6 separate regions of the Homo sapiens genome follow, and regions 2, 3, 4, 5 and 6 are each reported to be linked to region 1. The links are microRNA targets in miRTarBase. Many come from high-throughput screens and were not tested one by one. Region 1 holds a microRNA gene; each other region holds the end of a gene's coding sequence.

Region 1 (4,105 bases):
TCAGCAATGTGGGTCTGTTCCCCCTTCTCTGAGGGCTGAGCCCCTGTCACATTGATCTCTAAACTCAGTGCTTGGCACACAGCCTGGCTGGAGGAAATGAAAAATCAATGTTTGCAGAATGTAGTAGAGAGCCATTCCTGAGCATTACAATGCATTGGTTCTCCAAGGGGAAATGTTGGGGACCCAAAGAACACCAGAGCAACTGAAAGAAGCCTTTGGATCATCACAAAGCCAGGGTTTGGCTGGGAAGTCATAGTCTCAGGGTGAAACACATGGTCAGTGCCAGAGCTGGGATCACAGCTTGCGTTTCCTTATGTGTCTTCCCACATCCTTTTCACCATCCTGCCCGCCCCACTACTCTTGGGGGCTATTTCCCCTGCTGGGACCTGAGCATCCTCACTTGATAAGATACTGGAGTGGTCAGTGGGTCTTATCAAAATCATTAGGAACACCAGATTCCACGGCCAATCCAGACCTACTGAAAGAGAATCTTGGTGGCAAGAGTGAGGGATCTCTATTTTTCCAAGTGTCCCAAATAATTCAGAACAATTGGTTTGTGGGCTGTGGACTGGCATTTAGATTAGAGGGTCAATCAGCAAGGTTCCTTCTAGCTCCAACCCTCAGTAATCCAAGGCCAGAGAAGAAATCAGGGTCATCTCTTTTTAAAGCCAGAATCCACTGGTGTCATGTGGGGTAGGGGTGGACATTGTACTGGAACCCAGTGACAAGTGGGTGACACAATGCAGGAAAATGCCCATGTGAACTGCCAGAGAAAATAACAAACCTACTCAAGCCCTGCTACTAATAAGCGCGGCACTCCTGGACTTTTGTTTTTCCTTTATCTTGTATTTGGCCAAGTGGGCTGGAAGGAGCCTCCTTTTAATGACTGTGACTTGGCAAAGACTTTCATAGGTCCCGAAGGAGATGGCAGAATTGACATCTGTGCCCCATGAGAAAGGAGAGAACTCAGAACTGGCCACATGCCTGGGCCAAGAAAACCCCAGAAAATTCTGCAGAGGAACCGAGGAAGCCACCAGGAAGCGACCCCAACCCCAGGAATGATGCTAAAGACTACAGCGAGAGCACCAGGGATGCCTCCTCTCGATATTGGATGTATTTGCTGCGGATCCTTCATCCCTGGCCAGGTGACCGTTCTCCCCACACAGACTGCAAATACAAACTCATTCAGGCTGTCCCCAAACAGGCTGAGGCTATGCAAGACAACAGAGAGATCCTGGAGAAGAAAAACATGGAGAAGAGCTGGAATTCAGAGGCTGGGTCTGACACCAAGAAACTCCCCGGGAGCAGTAAGGACAGGCTAACCTGCAGCCAGCAGCACCAAGAGGGACCCGGCCGCTGCGCGGGGCCTTGGCCCTGGGTTGGCTGAGGCCAGGCTGTCAGCCCTGGTTTCTCACAGACCTGCCTCACCTCTGGCTGCACCAGGAGGCCTGCAACAGAAGCCACAGTGTGGGGTCAGCAAGTAGGGCAAGAAGTGGCAGGAGGGTGCTGTGAGTCACAGAGCAGGCCAGGCAGAAGTCAGGTGTGGGGTCAAAACAACAGGAAGAGTGTGACTGGGTGTGACTAGGCAGCCAAGGTAGACGGTCGGAGACTCCCTGACTTAGCCTCTCTGTTCTGGCCAGCCTGAACTCACTTTGTGCACCTACTCGTTTAGCCAAGTAAGTGACTGAGAGTCTATCAGACAGCTGTGGATACACCCACAAACAGAGTCCCTGCCCTCATGGAGCTGACATTCTAGGGAGAGTCTAGCAATACAGCTAGTCAACAAAAACAAAACCATAATTATAGCCAAGCGGTGATAAGAGCATAGATGGGAACAGAAGCACAGGGAGTACAGAGTGAGGCAGGCACTATTGTGGGCAAGTGAACAAAGGAGTGGAGAGTGAGGGCAGGCGCCATCTTGGACAAGTGGAGGAGGGAGGAAATGAGAGACAGGGCAGGCACCATCTTGGCCGGGTGGACAAGGAAGGAAATGAGAGAGAGGGCAGACACCATCTTGGCCGAGTGGACAAGGAAGGAAATGAGAGAGAGGGCAGGCACCATCTTGGACAGGTGGACAAGGGAGGGAATGAGAGGGCAGGTACTGTCTTGGACAAGTGAACAAGGAAGAGGGTGGGGAGTGAGAGCAGGTGCCATTTTGGACGAGTAGAGAAGGAAGGCCTTGAGTGGAGACCTGAATGAGCTGAGGAAGGACGTGGACTCCCCCACCTCAGAAAACTCCTTTCTGTACTCTGGCCTAAGCTTTCCTTGTCTTTTAGATCTCAGCTTAGATGCCTCTTCTCCTTCCCTGGTCCCCACACCCAACAGGGCCCCTTCTAGGTACATGCTTATAGCTTTGTGTCATAATTGCTATTGCTATTTACTCTCTTAGGACACTGTGAGCCTTCTGAGGATCACGTGACCTGGTACAGGGCCCGGTGCACTGAGATACCCAGCCTGTGCAAAGGGAAGGCATGCATGAATGGAGGGACTCATTAATATGGACCCAGATGGGCAGGTGCTGGCTGGAGGGCATGGCTCCCCAGAGTCCAGGGCTTTGGTGGCAACCTGAATGGAGAATCCAACATCAGGGCCCCAAATCTCCAGCATCCTCTTTATTACATCACAACACTTCTAATCACATACTTGCTGCCTTCTCTACTTGAGATGACTCTGGATTCTGGACCCAGAGCTCAGGCTGTTACAATGACCGTACATCTCAAGTGAGAGAATGGGGACATGGCTGTCAGATGATCATGGTGGGTGCAATGGGAAGTCTGGAAAATGTCATTTGGATGCTGAAATACTGAAATTCCCAAGAGGTTTCAATGTATATAGAAGTGATAGAAGAATATTTGGAAACAAGACACCTTCAAAAAATTGAAAACATATGATAACCATAATCACGGGATGCAAAGCATCAATTTCAAGGATGTCTCTGGCCCATGGCCCATGCTTACCATGCATTGAGCAAAGTCATGGCCTGCAGGGCTCCTATGGTCTCCCCAGTAGGGACCACATTGATCTCAGGAACTGAAAAGTGCCCTCAAGGGAGAAAAAGAACTAGAGAGCACCTGGGCGAGGCTGCACAAGGCACCACTCCACCCAGACCCCAGTGTCGGTTCATTAAGCATGGAGGCCTGTTCCTCACCACCTGTCCCCAGATCCCCTAGACTCAGGGCTTCCCCCCATGGTGGAGGGCCGCCTGCCCACAGGGTCAACAGATGCTGCCTGCCCCAGCAGGGTCAACACAAATCTGAAAGCCACACCTTCTCCCCTGGACTCACCCAAATCAGAGGCCACATTTTGTTGTAGCTCCACTTCACAGAGCATGGCCCTAAGCTGTGGATTTTGCATCCTTTTCTCCCCACCCAACAAAATCTCAGCTCTGTTACCACCTCTCTGGGAAACCACAGGCTGAGGTCTGACTTGCTTATGATGTAGGCTGCCCTGATTCAGGAACTCAGAGTCTAAATTCAGAAACTTGTGTCTCTGGCCTCCTTTACCCCTGAAGAGGTATAGGGGAGGCAGGCAGGCAGGAGCCTTTCCCAGAGCTGAGCAATGAGGCCACCTCCAGCAACACACTTGGGGAATCACCAACGCCCTCCAACAGTGACTACCCTCTAGCCTGAGAAGGACGTCATCATTTAAGAGGTTTGGGTTTCTGTGGGCAGAGGGTTTAAATGCTGCTTTTTCCCGGCAGTTTCTGCCCCAGGTCAAAGCTTTCCCACCAAGCCACCAACCACCACTGGGAAATGCTCTTGCCCCACAATGTGTCAGCCCCGACTTAATCAGAAGTGGTGACTGAGAGGCAGCCTCAGCCTGGTCCGTGACTTCCCCAAGACTCTTCCTGTCAGTCCAGGGAGTTTTTTCCTCAGATGCCCCCCAGGAGGGTCCCTGCAGGGGGAACGGGGCTACTGGAGTCAGGGAGATGCCTCTCTCTGCACGTGGCAGTGGAGGAAAATGGGAGACAGGGATTCTTGATTGTGTGAAATTCAGAGACTCCTAGGCTCCAAAGCAAGAGCAGATGCTCCAGGTAGAGGGCAAAGGGCAAGAGAGCTGGTGATGAGCAATGGGACCCCAGGCTTTCGAGGTTGCAGCCACGTCC
Region 2 (4,105 bases), not on the chromosome of region 1:
ACACAGACATAATACCTGGGGGAAGAAGAAAGATGCTCTGACAACATAATTCCCGTAGTAACTATATTAAAGAAGAGAGAAGAAGGCCCAACAAAAAGAATTTATTGGTGTCTGATAACAGAGAAATGAATCAAACAATTGCATATTCTTTTGGGGAGGTTTGTCAATAACACGTTAAAAGGAGAAAGGTACAAAAATATTTACAATATGACTACAACTCTTACAACAACAAAAAATCCTATACGGAGGGGAGAAGTGACAAAATACTCCACGGAGGGGAGAAGTGACAAAATACTCCAGTGTGAAGGAACTTGGTTTAGATGATAGGAAAGTGATTCCTTCTTTAAAAAAAAAAGAATTCTATATTCTTTTTTATTTATTGAGCAAGGATTTTGCATTACAATCGGGAACAAAAACAGACCTTTCTGAGAAGAGAAGGGGCTCCTGCAGTAGCCTAGGAAAATCACATTTAGAATCCACTCCCGGGATGTCATTCTAGGCTCTGCTGACTACAACAGCCTGAGTGAGGAGGAAAGAGGCAGCAGCAGACAGCGGATGTGGAGCAAGTACCCTCTGGATGTGCAGAAGGAGTTCGGCTATGACAGCCCCCACGACCTGGATTCAGACTGATGGTCTTGTGATGTCCATGAGGTTCTGCCACATGCCCTTGAGGGCTCTGAGTCCAGAGTTAACTGCCCTGCTGACATCCTGTTAGGTTTCCTAGCTTAACATGTGGAAGGAAAAGCATATCAAGCATATCGGGCGGCACCATCCCACCACAGTGAAAACTTATGTTAGGGGAGTGAGTCTTTTCCACTTACAGTAGGACCCCTTTGCCTCAATCAAAAGTGACCCTACAGTTTGAAAGAAAAAAAAACGTTGAAAAAAGGAAGGTTTCTTTAGCTTTAGCTTCTTGGCCCAGGAATTTTTCCTGGCATTCAGGTTCTGTGCTGAAACCACAAGGGAGGGGGAGGTTCCCATTTCATTAGCAGTAAGCTTCTGCTGTGCCATACCACCAGGCTGCCTGCCTCTAGGAAAACCCTGTTCCTTTTGATAGAATCTAAAAGGGGTACCAGTGGGTCCCTTGTAGCAATACAGACTGGATAGTAATGGCCATTAGGGCAGAAAGTAGTCTGAGCAGTGGGAGATTTTAGTTAACAGCTATTTCTGCTTCCAAACTCTGATAACGGTTGTGAAATTACTGACTGACTTCCTTTGGCAGTGGGGCCAAGAAACAATATATATGAATGTGATACATGTGTTTAGTAAAATCTAGCTTTGAACATGGAAGAAAGTAATTCTTTGAAAACCTTTTAAATCTGAATATCTAAAACAGGGAGCGGTAGTGAAATAGAAGGTTCAGCATTGATTATAAATACCAAGGACTTAAGGCAAGGGAGGAAAAACAAAGTACCTTCTGAACTTAGCTTTCCACTGAGTAATGTTTACTCTTCACAGCACCCACCACAAAAACAAACTACTATCAACAGGATCAATTTTATTAACAACTTGTATCTCTTCTAAGCAGACTCTGTCCGTATGCCTTTCCAAACCATAGCTGCCTTAACTGACTGCCTTGGTGTTTATTCTAGCGTAACATTGTCCAGTAGAACTATCTGCAGTGATGATATGTTCTGTGTCTGCACTGTGTAGTAGTAGACACGGGTGGCTGCTGAGCACTTGAAATGTGATTAGCGCAACTGAGAAACTGAGCTTTTAATTTTATTTCATTTTAATGTAATTAGCTACACGTGGCTAGTAGCTGTTGCAGCGGACACCACAGGTCTAAGGAAACAACACAGAACATTCAGCTAGGGGTGTACCCTCATAGCCTGTGAGTGTCTCTTACTCACTGTCATGGGGGAAGGTGAGTTACACAGGGAGGTACCTTCTTGCCGCCTCTTTTAGGATTTCCTAAGTATCTCTCCTTCATCCTACCTGCCATCATTCTTTGACTTTATGTCCATTTTCTAAACCTTTGCCTACACTTGCTCTTATCTACATGGAGTTGTTCAACCTGCCGAAGTGATTAAATTCTGTGTACACAGGCCGTATATATTGCAGCTAATTAAAACAACAAACATCCTAGGCATGCACAAAGGTATAATTCACCGTTATAACAGGCAGCAACTTGTATGTCTAATATTAGACATCTTGCTTTCTGTCTGTAGGCATAGAAACAAAGGATTGAAAGCCATTCTCATACAGCAACCGGGTGAAAAAAACAAAACACTGTGCTGTTACAATGTGCTCCCTGCTATTTATACTCATTAAGTTTCCCCAATATTAAAGGGCTGACAACTTAATAAACTGTACTCACTGCAAAAGGGATAATAAGCACACCAGGAAAAGGATTTAAGGAGACAGACAACAAAGAGCTGGCAGAAATTAATTCCACCATGAAGCTTGAGTGCTGTAGGGATCCTCTGGCTTCGCTCCCAAAGAGAGGATCCTGGGAGAAGTCTGTATCCAGCACAGAGGGGAAAAATGCTGTCACCATCCAAAAATGAAAGGAGGATGACATGGCTCACTAAGCAAGTACTAGGGCACCTGGCATGTGAGGTCCTTGCTTTCCCTAGAAGCCACTGGTGGGGGGCAGCAAATTCCTGGGATTAGCTGGTTATCTGGTGGAGAAAGCTAAAGCTGGGGTCAGGGATCTTTAAAAGGCAAGCACATTTTGCTTAAAGGATTAGCTCCAGAGGAGCCCTGGGATGGGTGCCAGCTTAGCTCAGACAGAAGTCATGTTCTTAGCGTTCAGGCAAGTCAGCCTTTGCATAAGACACCCTGTCGTCGGGCAGGAATTTGCCGTTACAAATCCCAAACCCATGACAGTAGGAATGTCACCCCATGCTTCACATATGCATTATGCTCTGAACCCAGGGCAACTATGACCATGCTTCCTTCAATCTTTATTGAGCAAATATATGGCCAAGGTTATTCCCTTATCTGTGACTGGGTGGAGAAGAATGGTCAGGAAGGGAGACTGCCTCACTGTTGACCAATTCCAAAACCTAAGGATAAGCCCATGGGGTATGTCAAGCTAGCAGGTTCTTCTCGGCCCAGGATGACAGTGTCTGGGGGCATCACAAAACAGTTGTACAATCCAATGCAGCCGTCCTGCTCATACAGTAAGATCCATTAGGCCAGAGCAGGCCTAACTTGGGTGGAGAGCCCAGCCTGAGCACCAGAATTAGTTGCTTCCACTTGTGCAGCCTGCTGAAGAGCCGGACTCAGGTTGAAGCAGCTTTCCTCCCAGTCTTCACTGATCTCCACAGGGAGAAAACAGAAGTCCCCACAAGTACCAAGCTCTTCCTGAGACTGCAGCCACCACACCTCGGGGAAGGGGAGGCTGGCAGGAGAGGAGTACACTGTCCCGGTGACCCACACCAAGGTGGCTCCAAGTGTAAACAAAGCCTGGTGCCAGGGACAGAAGAGGATGCAGCCTGATGTGAGGTTTTCAGAAAAGTGAAATGACCTAGCACCAGGTTGGGATTGCTTGGGTCTGCACAGCAGTCCCTCACACTGCCCTTACAGAGAGGAACAGGTTATTTGATGACTTGGGCCCATGAGATGTTCTCCAAGCCATTGACAGCTGAGAGAATTCAGGTGATCCACCTGAATATCAGAAGTTTCAGCCCTCTTAGAGTTCGTAACAGAAACCCAGAGATTTACTGTCAGCTAGAACAAAGATGTAAGGTCTCAAGTAAAATAAAGGATTGTCCTTCAAAACAGCAATATTAACAGACTTCTGACTCAGGAATTTGTTCATCTGTCCTTGCTGGACCTGAGCCAAGTGCTTGTAACGTGATCTATGATCTATCTGTATGCTAAAGTGTAACAGGTACGTGAGTAAAAAAATCTTTAAGGTTCATTGTTGCAGGTAAGACTCAATAGAAATTGTGCTAAACAGCATAAAACCTGTGGTCAGAGTCTGACCCAATACCACAGACATTTCTGAGCCCAAAGGGACTCAGTTTTGGGTACTTTGATTTTTAAATACAATCAGCCTATTGCATCCTGTAGATGAAGAGACACGCATGCTTCGTTAGAACTGGTGTTCTGGACTAAATATCAATAAATAAGGGAATATAACTCTCTCCCCAGG
Region 3 (4,105 bases), not on the chromosome of region 1:
CAGAAGGGCAGGGAGCTGGGCTTCTGTTCCACCACGCACTAGCGGCCCTGCTCCCTGAGGGCAGGCCTTGGGGAGGCTGGACCTTAGGACTTGCATCTCGGGGGCTGGGTCTTTGCTGAGTCTGGAACTGGAGTCTGGGCTGGGTGAAAGGATCAGGCACTTGATAGAAGGGTGCTCTGAAAGAACTAACGCACCCCATCTGCCTCTCACCCGCAGGTAAAAGTATGGTTTCAGAACCGAAGAACAAAGTTCAAAAGGCAGAAGCTGGAGGAAGAAGGCTCAGATTCGCAACAAAAGAAAAAAGGGACGCACCATATTAACCGGTGGAGAATCGCCACCAAGCAGGCGAGTCCGGAGGAAATAGACGTGACCTCAGATGATTAAAAACATAAACCTAACCCCACAGAAACGGACAACATGGAGCAAAAGAGACAGGGAGAGGTGGAGAAGGAAAAAACCCTACAAAACAAAAACAAACCGCATACACGTTCACCGAGAAAGGGAGAGGGAATCGGAGGGAGCAGCGGAATGCGGCGAAGACTCTGGACAGCGAGGGCACAGGGTCCCAAACCGAGGCCGCGCCAAGATGGCAGAGGATGGAGGCTCCTTCATCAACAAGCGACCCTCGTCTAAAGAGGCAGCTGAGTGAGAGACACAGAGAGAAGGAGAAAGAGGGAGGGAGAGAGAGAAAGAGAGAGAAAGAGAGAGAGAGAGAGAGAGAGAGAAAGCTGAACGTGCACTCTGACAAGGGGAGCTGTCAATCAAACACCAAACCGGGGAGACAAGATGATTGGCAGGTATTCCGTTTATCACAGTCCACTTAAAAAATGATGATGATGATAAAAACCACGACCCAACCAGGCACAGGACTTTTTTGTTTTTTGCACTTCGCTGTGTTTCCCCCCCATCTTTAAAAATAATTAGTAATAAAAAACAAAAATTCCATATCTAGCCCCATCCCACACCTGTTTCAAATCCTTGAAATGCATGTAGCAGTTGTTGGGCGAATGGTGTTTAAAGACCGAAAATGAATTGTAATTTTCTTTTCCTTTTAAAGACAGGTTCTGTGTGCTTTTTATTTTGATTTTTTTTCCCAAGAAATGTGCAGTCTGTAAACACTTTTTGATACCTTCTGATGTCAAAGTGATTGTGCAAGCTAAATGAAGTAGGCTCAGCGATAGTGGTCCTCTTACAGAGAAACGGGGAGCAGGACGACGGGGGGGCTGGGGGTGGCGGGGGAGGGTGCCCACAAAAAGAATCAGGACTTGTACTGGGAAAAAAACCCCTAAATTAATTATATTTCTTGGACATTCCCTTTCCTAACATCCTGAGGCTTAAAACCCTGATGCAAACTTCTCCTTTCAGTGGTTGGAGAAATTGGCCGAGTTCAACCATTCACTGCAATGCCTATTCCAAACTTTAAATCTATCTATTGCAAAACCTGAAGGACTGTAGTTAGCGGGGATGATGTTAAGTGTGGCCAAGCGCACGGCGGCAAGTTTTCAAGCACTGAGTTTCTATTCCAAGATCATAGACTTACTAAAGAGAGTGACAAATGCTTCCTTAATGTCTTCTATACCAGAATGTAAATATTTTTGTGTTTTGTGTTAATTTGTTAGAATTCTAACACACTATATACTTCCAAGAAGTATGTCAATGTCAATATTTTGTCAATAAAGATTTATCAATATGCCCTCAGAGTAGTCGTCTTGGGAAATTGAAGTGGATCTTTAAAAATGTATCTCAGTAATTTGAGTGTGGTCCTTCCCCAACTAGGCTCAAGAAACCCAGGCTCCTCACCCACAAAAGGGCCAGATTGATGGATTCTCAGGCATTTTAAAGAAAGATGAGGGTGGAGAAGGGAGAAGATTAGGAAAACTTAAGTCCTTCAGAAAAGAGATGGGAGAAAAGTTTTTCAACCAGACTTTGCCCATTGTATGCCCTCCTGAGGGAGTTTAGTTTGAACTTCAGGTTAAAATGCTTACTTCTCTTAACCTCTGGTTATTAAAAAAAAACTGGACATATAGTTACACATTGAGGACTACTCTCCCAAAATATTGGGGAAAACATGTAGCAGAATCTTGCAACTTCTAAACTTTCTGACTTCAAACCCCAAAGTACAAGTCTTACTTTTCCTTCCTTTCTTTCCTCCTCTCCCTGGCCCCAATCTGCTGAAGGTGATGGGCCAAGCCCAAGGGCCTCAGCAGCCTTATAAGGCAAGTGTTCTGAAAAACCTTCAACTCTTAATTTTAACATTAAAGAAAAAGTTGTAATCAGACTTGGAGGAAACTTAGCTTTTTTCCCTCCCTCCTTCCCCCTTCTGGGGGTACGAGGTTGTTTTTGCATGCTTCATTTGCTTCTTATCCTGATAGGCTGCATTAATCAGTTTTATTTCCATTGATAGAGAAACCTCGTCTGTTCTGTTCGAGCTACAAAGCGTCCTGCGAGCTTTTGTGAAAGTGCAAATCAGTTTAAGCAATTATCATACCAGGAATATGAAGGGGAAAGAGGAGGCCTTGCCCAGTGGTCTCCTTTAATCTCTTAATCCACGGATCCAGGGGGGCTGCCTGGACATAATTTAGGACAATCTCCCCACCCTTTACACTGTGATAAGGCCAAGTTACAATGCAGGGCAAAAATACAAGCTTTGTTAACATCTTGCCTTGAAAAGTTAAGATTAGACATTCCGTGCACGTGTGGGGACTATAGGGCACTATGGAAATTTTTTCTTTTTTTTCTCCTCTTCTCTAAAGCAGAATTCATTCTCCGTCTCTTTCTCCTTTCCCCCATCTCTGCCTGTCTTCCACCTCCCCTCTTTCCCCCCATTTCTGTCCCTCTGTAGAAACCTGGCTGCTCATAGTGCATTTTCACAGACTCTTCTTGGAAGGTGTGTGTGCCGTGAGGGGATACACCGCCGCCGGGAGTTGCCGGGGGAGGAGGGAGACGGGGTGGCCTCAGGAGACCCGGGCTTGCGTCTCACAGGGACAGGTGCGCCTCGGGGTATCCTGGAAACCCTCGTGGGGCTTCCAGGCGCTTTGACAGCACGACCCTCAGTGACCACCAGCTGTCTCAAGCGCTTTGCAGTCAGTGCTCCCGGAAAGCATCCCTTTCTCTTCAACAAGTACAAATTACCTTTTCCTTCCACTCACCTTCCAAAACCCGGAATACCTCAAACACCGAGCTCATTCTTAAACATTCTTAAAATTCAGATGGTCTGTCCAGAAAAAAAAAAAAATTCCGTCTTAACAGAAGGTTTACTTCTGCCGAAATTATATACTTTATACTTTTTAAGTACAAGAAAACGGGGCTGGTGGTGAAGATTTTTCTTTTTTTGGGTAAATGTCCTATGTAGTGTAACAGCAATAAAATCATCACAGAATACTATTAGCTTTGAAAAAAAAACTAAAAGCTTTATTACAAACCAAGCTTTGAAAATAGGGGGGATTAGGCGGCTGAAAGGGTCCCACAATGGTAAGAAGAAAAGGTTTCATGCTAATGAGGTTAATGCCCTTTGTATCTCAGGCCTCCACATCTTCATTACGCGCTATCTCCGGCTGCACGGAGCGGCTCAGAGAGCCGCAATCCACTCCAACGCCCCCCTTCCCGGCCCAAAGAAGGATTTGATAGCAGCTCTGTTCAAACTAGATAATTATATCTTTTCAAGTCGGAATTAAGATAAAGAAAGTGAAGCAGAGGCGGCTCGCCTTGATCCACTGCAAACAAATTTGGCGCACTTTCGAGTCCTTCCTCCGCCTCAAAAAGGCAGGACAGTCAGCTTATTAGCCGCTCGTTTGCTTTATTAATTCATCTATTTAAAGTGGCAGGATTAGAGTGTCTAATGTGGACGCGGGCTGCCGTGGCGCTGAGGAATATAAATATTTGCGAGATGCCATCCCACGATGACTATCTGGGAGTGGGGCGCGGGGCAGGGTGCGCGTGTGCCCTGCCTCTGCGTTCCCTTCGCAGTGCGCGCGTGCTGAGCTGAGCAGGGGGTTGTAGGAGCCATGAGCCGCAGGTCTATGTGCCCCTTCGTGCTATATGGGTGCCAGCCCTGGATGCTCCCGGGCAGGGCTCAATGGGCATCGTGGGTCAGATTCTGCGCTCC
Region 4 (4,105 bases), not on the chromosome of region 1:
AAGCGTGGCCATCTTCTGTATCTAAGTGTAACTCACTCATATTGTGTGGCATGCTCAATTTGAAGTGATTTAACAAGTCACATCGTGTATTGCCCACAGAAATGCCAGCAGACGCTAGAGAGGATCACTCATGTCTTCAAAAAGTCCCAAAGATACCCAGATCTTCCCGAAGTCCAACTGCTGTCCTCACCAAGCCCTCGGCTTCCTTTGAACAAGCCTCTTCAGGCAGCCAGATCCCCTTTGATCCCTATGCCACCGACAGTGATGAGCATCTTGAAGTCTTATTAAATTCCCAGAGCCCCCTAGGAAAGATGAGTGATGTCACCCTTCTAAAAATTGGGAGCGAAGAGCCTCACTTTGATGGGATAATGGATGGATTCTCTGGGAAGGCTGCAGAAGACCTCTTCAATGCACATGAGATCTTGCCAGGCCCCCTCTCTCCAATGCAGACACAGTTTTCACCCTCTTCTGTGGACAGCAATGGGCTGCAGTTAAGCTTCACTGAATCTCCCTGGGAAACCATGGAGTGGCTGGACCTCACTCCGCCAAATTCCACACCAGGCTTTAGCGCCCTCACCACCAGCAGCCCCAGCATCTTCAACATCGATTTCCTGGATGTCACTGATCTCAATTTGAATTCTTCCATGGACCTTCACTTGCAGCAGTGGTAGAATGCCCAATGCACCAGTGCTATGGAAGACCAATGGAGTTCCATGGGGGAAAGCACACAGCCATACATACTTTACTGTCCAAAAACAGAAGAAGAAGAAGAGAATTAAAAAGAAGCAATGATTTCTGTGCCAATGAACAAGAACAAAAGTCATTTTTAGAAATACATATACTGTAATATTTACCAACAGTCAGTAACTGTTAATGATTTCAACAATGCATTAAAAGAATGTGCTTTCTCAGATTAAGGATGCCAAAAAAGATATTTCACTGCCTTTTCAAAGACCAGTATATTTTCTAGCCCATAATTTTTCTCAGGCATTGTTGGGGCATAAGCTCACACTGTAAGCTTTTCTCATGAATTCACTAGACATAACGTGGAAGGAAAACGTAGTCTTTTGGGAGTACAGGGAAGCCAGCCCCTCAAAGCTTATGGAAGACATACCTGCAATGGAAGCTGTTGCCCAATGTCTCCATTACTATCTTTCAAAAGAGAAGCCAGACCCAGCTTCAGATCAAAAGTTCTTGAGACAGAGGAACAAAACCAATCGATTTCCAGGGAAGCTAATCAACTCTCTTTTCCCTCTACCACAAAACTGCCCTGCTGGAGTGGTTCTGAACCTGTACCCAGGACTCGATGTGGTCACTAATAACAATTAACCTGAACTGAGTCCACAGAACTCCACTCGGAACTTTCTTCTTTTTTAACTAGTGGCCCAATCATTCCCACCATCTCTGTGCTGATAAGTACGTGTCCTAGATGAGAACCCTGAAGAATGCAGACCTTCTTCCCCCGAAGGAGATGCCACAAGCTCTCCAACACAGCCCCCTTTAGTTCCAAAGACTAGAGATGACCACATTGGTAGAAGTATATCTCGAGGCACAGGAAGGGAGCCCCACCAGGGATAATTCAGACAGGACTAGAGAATAACATCATTTCACATACCCTGGGATAAACACCCTGGGTTCCTATAGAAGGACTATTACTTATGGGAGTCCAACTTCTCCTTTTGTTTTGTTATTATCAGTTTATCTTTCTCCCACTCCACTTTTCCTTCAAGGTACCAATCCTTTCCTGTTCCTCGTTTGGCCATCTTTCTTTTTCTGCCTCCACATTGGGAGGGGAGGACTTCTCAGTTCTAACAAGCTGCCATACTCCTAAGAAAGCCATTTTTGAAAAATTTAACAATCCAGGTTCTTCTGGAGAACTCATTCTCCACACGCACAGTTTGCTGCAAAAGGAAGTTGCAAGAATTTCTTGAGGAAGAAACTGGTGACTTGGTCCATCAGTCACGAAGTTCTTTCTATTCTCGTTTAGTTTTCAAGAAATTATTGGTTTGTGTTGCTCTGGGGAAATTGGAAATCATTACATTGTAAAGACAAATATGGATGATATTTACAAGAGAGAATTTCAGATCTGGGTTTTTGAAAGAAAACAGAATTGCGCATTGAAAACGATGGAAGGAAAAAGACAATGGTCTAATGTGCATTCCTCATTACCTCTCGTGGCTTTGGCTGGGAGTTGGAAAAAGCTAAAATTTCAGAACAGTCTCTGTAAGGCTCTCTGTGGCTCCAGTTCACCATTTTATATTGTTGCATGCTGTAGAAAGGAGCTATTGCTGTTGTTTTGTTTTTTTATTTAAATCACTAAGGCACTGTTTTTATCTTTTGTAAAAAAAAAAAAAAAGTTGTTCACTGTGCACTTATAGAAAAAATAATCAAAAATGTTGGGATTTTAGAAGCTCTCTTTTTGATAAACCAAAGATTTAGAAGTCATTCCATTGTTAACTTGTAAAAATGTGTGAACACAGAGAGTTTTTGGTGATTGCTACTCTGAAAGCTGCCAGATCTTATTCTGGGGGTGGGATGTGGAGGAATACACATACACACACAAACATACATGTATGTATAATAGATATATACATATGTGTATATTATATCTGTGTGTGCATGTATCTCCAAAAGCGGCGTTACAGAGTTCTACACCAAAAGCCTTTAACCCTTAATCTGCTGTGAATGATACCTGGCCTTTCTCACTATGAATTTCTGATTAACCAACCAGACTACACGTTGCCTCTCTGTGTATGACTAACGGCTCCAACCCGATGACTCACAGCTACTTGCTTATCGTGAACAAGCTCATCTTGGCAATGAATATGGATGTGAAAAGACAGAACAGCTTCACCATTAGTAGCTGGAAATGGTATCACAGTCTCTTATAGAGGAATATGAAAGGAACAAGAAAATCATTTTACATTCCTTTTATCTGTATTGTGCTTTAAAAGATCCACATGGTAAATTTTTTATTTTGCTTTTATGTCAGTCATCAGAACCAAAAAAATCCAGAAGAAAAAATTGCCAGTGTTTCCTTTGAAGATGAAGCTACTGGGGAAGAAAACCTTATTAATACACTCCACACATTTGTTCATTCCTCAGCTGTTGGTGTTTTCTTGGGGTCTTGACAAAGCTTGCTGGTCAGTGCACTTTTCAGGTGTCACGTTTTGCTGTTTGTATGTTTTTTCTTCCCCTTACTTCCTTTGGAAAACAAACTCACACAGTGCCCCTACTCTGAGACCTGGGACTGAGTGTTAATTATTTTTTCCTTGGGTATTTCTATCTGAGAGACTAGACCTAGTTAGGAGGCCTCTGTACTTCTCCAGATTGTACCTTTTTATGGGGATCTTTGAGGCTATGACCCAGGACTGATAGATATGCCTTACGGAAGACAAAAGATAAAATGGTTCCTATATCCTAATGCAAACCAACACAGTTAAAAGAGCAGATCTCTGGATAACTGCTCTCAACCTGCTTCTACAGTCTCCACAAACCGCATTCACCCTCTCTCTTCATAGCTCAGACATGAAATTTGAGGGAGAAAACTGGAGATAATTGGGAGAAAATTGATGAAGTTGGCTGCTTCCAGTAGATCAGATAATCCATGAATTTGTCTCCCATTGAGAATTTTATTTTAAATTCTTTTAAACTCTTCGTTGTGTCTTTTGTGATGACAAATCAGGCATGACTAAAAGATGTACAGAGACTTACGAAGATGGTCACATTCAAGTTCCCTAATGCTCTTAGAACCTGAAGATGACCATGTGTAGTTTTCTTAAGACCTCTGAACCCCCATGGTGATGAAGACTTGAAGACATTTGCAGCTATCTGCTGCAGTCTGGTAGATTCATACTTATCTAAAGAAGTCAAAAAATTTATTCGTGCAAGTGCTTGCAGGAAGCCAGTGCTTATTAGTAGTGACCCTGCTTCTATCAACGTTATTGAGACAACACATATTCTATTCTAAGGGAGAAAGAGGGAGGAAGAGAGGGAGGGAGGGAGGAAGAAGAGGGAGGGAGCGAGGAAGGAAGATAGGAGATGGGTAGGGGGGTAAAGAGAAAAGGAGGGAGAAGGGAAGGAAGGAAAGAAGAGAGGAAAGAAA
Region 5 (4,000 bases), not on the chromosome of region 1:
GCACCCAGCTGATTTGTTTGTTTGTTTGTTTTGGGGGACGGACTCTCGCTCTGTTGCCAGACTGGAGTGCAGTGGCGTGATCTCGGCTCACTGCAAGCTCTGCCTCCCGGGTTCAAGTGGTTCTCCTGCCTCAGCCTCCCGAGTAGCTGGGACTACAGTCGCATGCCACCAAGCCTGGCTAATTTTTGTCTTTTTAGTAGAGCCAGGGTTTCACCCTGTTGGCCAGGATGGTCTCAATCTCTTGACCTAGTGATCCGCCCCCTCGGCCTCCCAAAGTGCTGAGATTACAGGTGTGAGCCCCCGCGTCAGGCCGATTGTATGTTTTTTTGTTGTGTTGAGACAAGAGTCTTGCTATGCTGCCCAGGCTGGTCTTGAACTCCTGAGCTCAAGCGATCCTCCCACCTCGGCCTCCCAAAGTGCTAGGATTACAGGCGTGAGCCACTGCACCTGGCCACTAAGACTTTTATTCATTCAGCTACTTCATTACATTTTTTAAAATACTGTAAATCTTATAGCCAAATCAATTTCTTCATTTAATCCCTTGCTGTAATAATTGTTTTCTTTGCTTCTTCCCCCCTAGTGGTGTGGACATGCCTGCAATCCTGCTGAAACTCGGATTTAAAGAGTCCCTGGTACAGTCAAAAATGGCAGCAGGCACAAGTACCTTCGTGGTGGCCTATGCAATCCACAAGCTGTTTGCGCCAGTGAGAATCAGCATTACGCTAGTCTCTGTGCCCTTGATTGTCAGATATTTTCGAAAAGTGGGATTTTTTAAACCTCCAGCTGCAAAACCTTAATGAACTCTTCAGTCGTACACACTGAAAACCTATTTCTTCTAAATTACATGATTTGGATTGGTTTTAGGGTTTTAGGGTTGTAGGGTTTCTTTTGGAGAGGTAGGGGGCTAATTGCTATGTTCTCATGGATAAACTTTGCCAGCAAAAATCAGGCTTTTGAACAATTTTAATTTTTTGCCTCATAAATTTTGTGAATGCTATTCATTATAGGGCTTGTATATATAATCTAAAATGTCAGCAAGGCATCGGAGATGGGTTAACATCTCAAAACAAAATAGCCTACAAATGTTCCTTGTGGGAGACTTTGGCGAGGGTCTGTGGGTAAAAGCACCAGGGGGTTAATCTTGGCTCAGTTTCCTAAAAAGCATTGATTAATTTAACTGGCTTTTAAATATCCCCTTCCGCTGATATTTGTTGTCAGCTGCCTACAGTTTAATATGCAGCGTTCACAAAACAGCTGCCAGTGCTACAATTAATGAAGCAAAACTTAATATGTAATCACAATCTAAATTAGCATCAATACTTTGACATTCATTACATTGGTTTGGGGGAAGAAAAGTAGTTCTGGTATGTTTCATTGATCCCCAGATACCTTCCAATCTGGACATGATGGGGCTGATTCCAGATGGTTTTTCTGAAATTTCATTAAGGTAGGTCAGCGTCATTTGTCTCTGTTTAGGTAAAATATAAAAACCCTGCCCAGTAGCAGTGGCATCGCTTGGTTCCTGATGCCCATGTTCCAGAGGAATTCGGATACCACAAACAGCTAAGACAATCTCAGCTTTTCTTAGACAATCTTCTATCTCAAACTTCAGACATTCCAGAATTGTCATGATGTTTACACTGTCTGAGTTAAAAATCCTGTTCAAGAAAAAAAAAGATTTTGTATCACTTCTTAAAAAGGAATATTCATAGCACTTGTCACAAATAGAAGGCAACCATGAGATAATACAAGCCAGGGAGAGGCTTGTATTACATGACAGGTGTAATTAGTCTGCTGAGCCAGCTTTACCCAATGAAGGGCATATGTGTTAGAGAGATTAGCTAAGAGTAGAAATTCGAGCATAGAGGCCAGGTGCGGTGGCTCACGCCTGTAATCCCAGCACTTTGGGAGGTTGAGGCAGGCGTGTCACTTGAGGCCAGGAGTTCGAGACCAGCCTGGCCAACATGATGAAACCCCGTCTCTACTACAAATACAAAAATTAGCCGGGTGTGGTGGCACACGCCTGTAGTCCCAGCTACTGGGGAGGCTGAGGCAGCATTGCTTGAACCCAGGAGGTGGAGGTTGCAGTGAGCCAAGATCACACCACTGCACTCCAGCCTGGGCGACAGAGGGAGACACTGTCTCCAAAAGAAAGAAATCCCAGCGTAGATCCAAACTGAGACACTGAGGCTTCGTCCTTATAGTAGTCAGGAGCAGGCGATTGAAGTAATTCTGTCCTGCGGGGTTCAGCATCATGCACGTTCCCCCTGGGCCATTCTCTGATGCAGGGCACTTGCTCCACACTCTGGGAACCCAGATTCACCAGTCTGCCCTGTCACGTAGTTGAAGGAGTTGCATTTATCTTTCTGGCTCCTAATTCCTTTAAAATTACATTTGTTGCAGAACCTCCACAAGGCTAAATAAAATTACATTTGTGACCATCAGAGAACTGAATAAACCATTAACTGGCCATCCTGGTTTTGCAGAGATCAGGTTGTTGACAGTTCCTGGTTGACCCACAGCTACCCATGTCAGTTATCTCCACTAACATATCCAAGAATCTTTGTAGGACAATTTCTCCACCTGCAAGGTCTTTCAGGTAGAACTCTTCTTTTAAGGCAATTAGCCCATTGCCAAAAGGTTTTACTGTCTTAAAGCTGTCTTTCTGAGATCTAATTCCAAGGACTTCTCCACAGCTAAGTGAGATGCCTCACACCATTAGGTGATGCTTTGGACAGAACAGAGTATTTTCATCTTGTGTTTAAAGCAATTCCTTGGCTTCGGCTCCTCACCACTTTCTATGCCAGTCTCCCATTTATGTCCCTAGTAATGCCTATGCAAAAAAAAAAAAAGAAAAAAAAGAAAAACTGATGGTGAAACCTACAGGTTTAAGGGCTTAAATCTCAAACTTTGTTAGGAGTAACAGGAGCGTGCTGAGCGGGCAAGCAATAAAACAAATCATACCAAAAAGCCACATTGCTCTCTCCTAAGCCCCAACCCCACTCCACTCCTGTGGCCAGGGGTCCAAACAGAAAATAACCGGAGAAGACAAGGAGGTCAAAGGATCAGGGAACTAAGCATTATGTGAATTCACCAGCAAGATGTACAGAACGCCTGTGTTTACATTGTTTTTATGGAACTAGCAGAATAAAACATCTATTTTAAAAATGAAAGCCATTGTTTCTCTAATTTATCTGACAAAGTGAGCAGCTTAAATTCTGTGAAACATCTTTATAGTTTATGAACTTTTTTATATTCCTTCTGGTAAGCCATGGTTGTTGCTGATGATGAAGTGGCACTGTGACCAGTGTATTAATGTGCTACTACAATGAGCTTTTTCTTTGCTTGTGTGGGATTGTCTGGGGAAACGTCCCAAGTCTCACTGGTGTCACTGGGAAAGTCAGTCACGTGATAATAACTATAGCTTGGGAGGGTGGCACATGAACTATTTGGGAAGGTCAAAGTCAGTTCAGCTCAAGACTATGAGAACCAGAAGCCCCTTTGTCCCAAGGGGGCTGGCAGCTGCAGTTTTACTGAGTCATGTTTTTAAGTTTCTCTATATTGGCCACTTTGTTATGACATATCCTGACATACCTGCTGTCCAGTTTCTTGCACTGAGCATTGGCCATGCAAGCAGATTTCTCTACTAGCTCTAAGTTCAACACTTCTACTTTTCCTTCATCACAGTCACTTTCACCGTATCTTTAGTCGATGGACAGATGACAAAGATATGACAAATATATAAACAATATATATAATGAAGTATTAGGAGTACACCCAACAGGAGAGACCAGAAGAGGCAGGACTAGATGAGGGCGAGACCTGCTCCTCTCAGCCCCTGCTCATTTCCAGGCCAACAATGAACAGATGGTGGAAAGAATTACACAGCACTCCACACAGACATAGATACTTATTTATTTGCATATTTAAAGTTTACACACATGCTATGACTCCAATGTTTTAAAAAAATAAGCCCTTAACAGCTCTGAGACACATGGCC
Region 6 (4,105 bases), not on the chromosome of region 1:
AGTTTCCATCCGAATAAAAAGAAATTCAATTTTACACGACTTGTAACGATTTGACGGAAAGTCCAGACGCACCATTCAGGTGCACAATCTAATCTAGTCAAAATAATGTTGTTTCCCTCCTCGAGGAAAGAAAATCTCTTTCTTTTCTTTTTCTTTTTCCTCATCAGGTAGAATCCAATTCATTCCAAGGGCAGAAAACTGGTGTCAGAAAAGGAAACGCTGGAGGATGGTGCGGATCGTGGCTGGGTGGGCGCAGGGCCGAGGAAAACTTGCTTTTCGTTCCTCTGTTGCGCTGGAAGCTATGGGACAGGAAATGCCAGGGAAACCGGGGGACTCGAAATCGCACTGCCCTTACCGGGCCCGGGCGAGACTCTGGGCCCCCAGGCCGCGTCCCCCGCCCCCACCGACCTCCAGGCCGCTACCCGCCTCTGAGCTTGGGCCCCTGACCACCGCCTCCAGCTCCTTCTGGCCCCTGAGCCGGAAAGGCACAGGCCTCTGGGGCCCCGAGGTGGCCCTGGGGAGGCGAGGCCCCACCGCAATTGGGGACCGAACTCGTGTTGTAACTGGCGGGATCTCGCCTCCCACGCGCGCTGTCTCCAATTTGGTCATCACCGGCCGGCCGGTCGCCACCCGCTCAGGTCAAGGTTCCCCGCGCCCCCAGGGGCGCCTAGGGCTTGGGGGAGGCCGGGCAGGGGGCCTAGGCCCTGTTTTCGCCTGTTGGCTTCGGCCGGGGCCCCGGGGCCCCGCTGCCTCTGGGCTCAGGTTCCGCGGACTGCTGTCTCCCGGCTGGACGCTCGGTCCGGGGCCGCCGCCCGCCGCTCCCGGGAGCCTGGGTGATGGACGTCCGCTGACCCGCGGGGCAGAGGCAGCGCACACAGGCCTTGATCACTGGCCTGCGGAGGGAGCCGCGCGGCCAGCGGGACCTGCACGACCGGGCCCTTTGATCTGCCTTTATTATCAACGAGAAACAAAGCTCCCTGGGCCCGACGCCCGGGCGCCCGCGTTCCTGGGGAGACCCACCACACCCTCTACTCCGCGCCGCCAGCCCGCGGCCCCCAAACGCGCCAGGCACCCTCTGGGCCTCCAGTGCCCCGGCCCGAAGCCCCTCCGGAAAACGCGTCCCTGCCAGCCGGCTCTCCGGAAGACCATCCCCCGACCAGAGGCGCTTAGGGAGTGGGGGGCTCCCGGTTATGAACAGCTTGATCGGGGAGAGAAAATGGCCAAAGTGAAGAAAAACTCGAGTAAGAAGAGCGGGGCAGCCTGGCCGCGGGGAGCTCAAGAAGGAGAAGGAAGAAGCCATTGAATGTCACGCTGCAAACTCCCTGCTGGGGACCTTCGTTCTGTTTTATCGCTACTTTGCGACTTGGTGTTTCAGAACAGTTTCCGAGAAAACATTTTGCTGATTGTTAATAACAAGAATTTATTTTTTCTTTCCTAAAAATCAAAATCTTCGCTCAAATTCCCAAGGCGGACAGTAATCAAAAATGGAAAAAAAAAATATGTTGGTGCTGACTTCGCTTGTATTTCCTCTTGTGTGGGAAATCTTTTAGAAATATTTTTATTCTGTAAATATGTACTTTATTTTCTAAATTAACATTTTTTTCGAATTGCGAAATTATCTCATTTACCAATTTTCTTTTTGTCTCTCCCTCTTTTCTCCCTCTTTTAAACTGGGGCTGTTAAGTTGGTGGTCAGAAGACAAAGAGAGTGAAAATAATTTTCATTTCAATAATTGCCTTCTGGTCAATTTAACTGTGCCTTATTTTGAAAGAGACTGTCTAAATGAGATTCCTGTCCCAAATGTGTTCCCAGGCCTGATCCCAGCCTTTAATTATTCCTGAGTTTTTTTCTTCAGAATAAGACGCCGCACTGAGTAATCACAAAGAAGTCAGAGAGCATCCTTGAACCTTTTCAGAAGCAGCGCCACTGATATTCAAATAACCTGCGAGGGCCATTTGACGGCGCGGGGACCTAGGCATTTCCAATTCACTATTTGCATAGATCAGCCGTCTTTGAAAAGGAAAGGAGCAGTTGTCTTCCATAACATTAAAAAGCCTAGTTATCAAATCAAGTGCTTAGTTTGGGGGCTTTTTAAAACGTTTACATTTTATCTCAGGTTGCCCTTTACCGTTTGACATGCAAATTTGGTGCAGTTAATTTAGACAATTAAAAAGATCTTCAAGGGAGCTTTGTCACAGAGAATATTTGGAGTTTTCCCCGCGGACCAGCTGAGATAAAGTTGGCCAGAACAAATGATGTCTAGGAGATTAATTAGATATTTGATAAGACATGAATCCCTAATAAGGGAATACAAGGCACAGGGGGCTGCTGTGTGCTCTAAGTCAAAATTAATAACATTTAACAAGATTTTCATTTAGGCATGAAATGTCTTTTCCGGGGTATTGACTCTAGCGATTTATTCCCTTGAGTTGCCTTCCAACATACAGGGCCTTGGGAGCTAAAAGACTTCTTTTTTTTTAAGCGTTTTCCTTTCACAGTTGTTTTTAAATCACTTTTTAAAAACAAACAAACCCACCAGAGTTTTCTCTGACCCCTCCCAGAGGTTTAGGCACCTCCCCAATTAAAGCTGCCAAGGACCTTTGCATTTTTTAGGCGCTCCAGAGTTTTAAAATGTCACCTTTTGAGAGCCTTCACATTAAGTAATACAACTACACGTCCTTACAACCCAATTTAATTTATGTTGTTGATATACAAATAAATAATTTTGACTTCTCAAAAACGTATATGTAGTATGGCTTTTATAACCCACATAAACTTTACATTACCTACAACTAACATTAAGGGAATTTTTTCCCAACCGAAAAAAAAATCGACCCACGAAAAGGTTATTGAGGGGGAAACAGGATTTTTAAAAAAGGAAATGTATTGTTCAGAGTCCTTTAATAATACCAAAATGAAAATATGATGTCAAGATTTTCTTGATACAGATAAACGCATTTAATTTCTTTAGATGACCTTAACTTACGTGTTTGTGAGTGAAATGATAACTCAACATTTTAAATATCTTTTACATATATACTGACTTTCACAAAGTGCATCAGAAAATTAAAAAAAACTCCCTGAATTTCAGGGATTCACCCAAAAAAACTCTATTCGAATGAACATTTACAAGAAAATAAAAGAGAACACAATCTTTTGAACCCTATTTATACAGATGTTATGAAATACAGAGAAACTGTCGCTAGACTTCCAGTTTAATTTCTCACCTTAAGCCTTTTGATGCTTCCTTTTTTAGGAAAAAAGTCTCATTGTAAGTAGATATCAGGCAGGACTTGGAGCATTTTATATATAATATAATCCAAACAAAGGGTGTTTTTATCGGTCCCGTTTGTTTTCAAATGTTCTGACAGTCCTTTGCTGGGTGGTGGCTTGTTTTTGAGAAAAGGAAAGAGACGGGTGTTGGAGGGAGGTGGAGAGTGGGCAAAGAGGGAGCCTTTCTATGTATTGCTCTTCGCTCGAGAAGTTTGGGCGAGTGGTATGTGTGTGCGCGCGCGAGTGTGCGTGCTTGTGGTTGTAGGTCTCCGGTGTATGTGTACGTCTGGGAGTACAGTTTTTAAAGTGTTTGTGTCGGAGGATGGTTCGCTTTTGTTTCCGGACCACGCGTTCGATTCTTATCCGGGCGCGGAAGGCAGAGGGGAGCTCCTCGCACAGCGGGCGAACCGCAGCCCGGGAGCCCTGAGCGGCTCCACCTCGCGCCCAGCCCGGGCCCTGGGGGCGTCACTGAAGCCCCTGCCCTCCCGCCTCCCGCTCGCTCGCCCTCCGAACCTCTCGTTCGTTCTCGGTGTCTCTACTCGCTTGTGTGCTCGCGCCTCTCGCCCGGCCTCTAAGAGTCGTTGGGGCCAGACGCTGCTTCCTTGCCTCCCGCGGAGGCCGCCGCCGCCGCCGCCGCCGCTGCCGCCGCCGCCGCTGCCGCCGCCCGGGCGGCACTGACGCCGGAGTCATGCAGGATGAGGTCGGGGGATTCGGAACGGGGCGTCTCCAGGTTGCTGGCGTCCGTGTCACTGTCGCTGCCCTTTTTGCCCCCGCCGCCCCCGTTGTGCGTCTTAATGTGTTTGCTCAGGTGGTCGCTGCGCATGAAGCGCTT

What was found. Region 1 holds the annotated microRNA hsa-miR-4287 (UCUCCCUUGAGGGCACUUU, at 3,035-3,053, opposite strand). A microRNA usually pairs through its seed, bases 2 to 8, with sites in the 3' UTR of a target mRNA and lowers its output. Matches are read on the target gene's strand: a 7mer-m8 pairs with bases 2 to 8, a 7mer-A1 pairs with bases 2 to 7 and ends in A, and an 8mer does both.
Region 2: miRTarBase lists SLC7A6OS as a target of hsa-miR-4287. Seed matches in the 3' UTR shown: 7mer-m8 at 961-967, 7mer-m8 at 1,394-1,400, 8mer at 2,976-2,983 and 7mer-A1 at 3,274-3,280.
Region 3: miRTarBase lists EMX2 as a target of hsa-miR-4287. Seed matches in the 3' UTR shown: 7mer-A1 at 434-440, 8mer at 499-506 and 7mer-A1 at 677-683.
Region 4: miRTarBase lists MYOCD as a target of hsa-miR-4287. Seed matches in the 3' UTR shown: 7mer-m8 at 1,557-1,563, 7mer-A1 at 3,539-3,545, 8mer at 3,969-3,976 and 7mer-A1 at 4,068-4,074.
Region 5: the mRNA of FAM210B is a reported target of hsa-miR-4287. Seed matches in the 3' UTR shown: 7mer-A1 at 1,755-1,761 and 7mer-A1 at 2,130-2,136.
Region 6: the mRNA of SP9 is a reported target of hsa-miR-4287. The part of its 3' UTR that is shown has no 7-base or 8-base seed match.

The regions. Positions count from the first base shown.
Region 1 is chr8:27,883,054-27,887,158 of GRCh38, forward strand. MIR4287 (microRNA 4287) reads right to left here and starts at 3,063; the gene lies at 2,986-3,063. All of the region lies in intron 7 of SCARA5 (scavenger receptor class A member 5), which reads right to left.
Region 2 is chr16:68,297,800-68,301,904 of GRCh38, reverse strand. SLC7A6OS (solute carrier family 7 member 6 opposite strand) reads left to right here. Exons shown (of 5, transcript NM_032178.3): 5 at 500-3,871. The coding sequence ends at 630. It overlaps SLC7A6 (solute carrier family 7 member 6), which reads right to left. Exons shown (of 11, transcript NM_003983.6): 11 at 86-4,105. Among named protein-coding and RNA genes, the nearest start is that of SLC7A6OS, 11 kb to the left of the region's middle. RefSeq lists a silencer at 3,625-3,919.
Region 3 is chr10:117,547,849-117,551,953 of GRCh38, forward strand. It overlaps EMX2 (empty spiracles homeobox 2), which reads left to right. Exons shown (of 3, transcript NM_004098.4): 3 at 217-1,698. The coding sequence ends at 384. Among named protein-coding and RNA genes, the nearest start is that of EMX2, 7.2 kb to the left of the region's middle. RefSeq lists a silencer at 1-144 and enhancers at 1,841-3,185, 3,124-4,099, 4,044-4,105.
Region 4 is chr17:12,762,974-12,767,078 of GRCh38, forward strand. MYOCD (myocardin) reads left to right here. Exons shown (of 14, transcript NM_001146312.3): 14 at 100-4,105. The coding sequence ends at 671. It overlaps ARHGAP44-AS1 (ARHGAP44 and MYOCD antisense RNA 1), which reads right to left. Exons shown (of 2, transcript NR_104607.1): 2 at 1-745. Among named protein-coding and RNA genes, the nearest start is that of ARHGAP44, 24 kb to the right of the region's middle.
Region 5 is chr20:56,365,491-56,369,490 of GRCh38, forward strand. It overlaps FAM210B (family with sequence similarity 210 member B), which reads left to right. Exons shown (of 3, transcript NM_080821.3): 3 at 581-3,173. The coding sequence ends at 797. AURKA (aurora kinase A) reads right to left here. Exons shown (of 9, transcript NM_198437.3): 9 at 3,900-4,000. Among named protein-coding and RNA genes, the nearest start is that of FAM210B, 8.5 kb to the left of the region's middle.
Region 6 is chr2:174,337,280-174,341,384 of GRCh38, reverse strand. It overlaps SP9 (Sp9 transcription factor), which reads right to left. Exons shown (of 2, transcript NM_001145250.2): 2 at 2,885-4,105. The coding sequence ends at 3,845. Among named protein-coding and RNA genes, the nearest start is that of SP9, 4.4 kb to the right of the region's middle. RefSeq lists an enhancer at 1,218-2,850.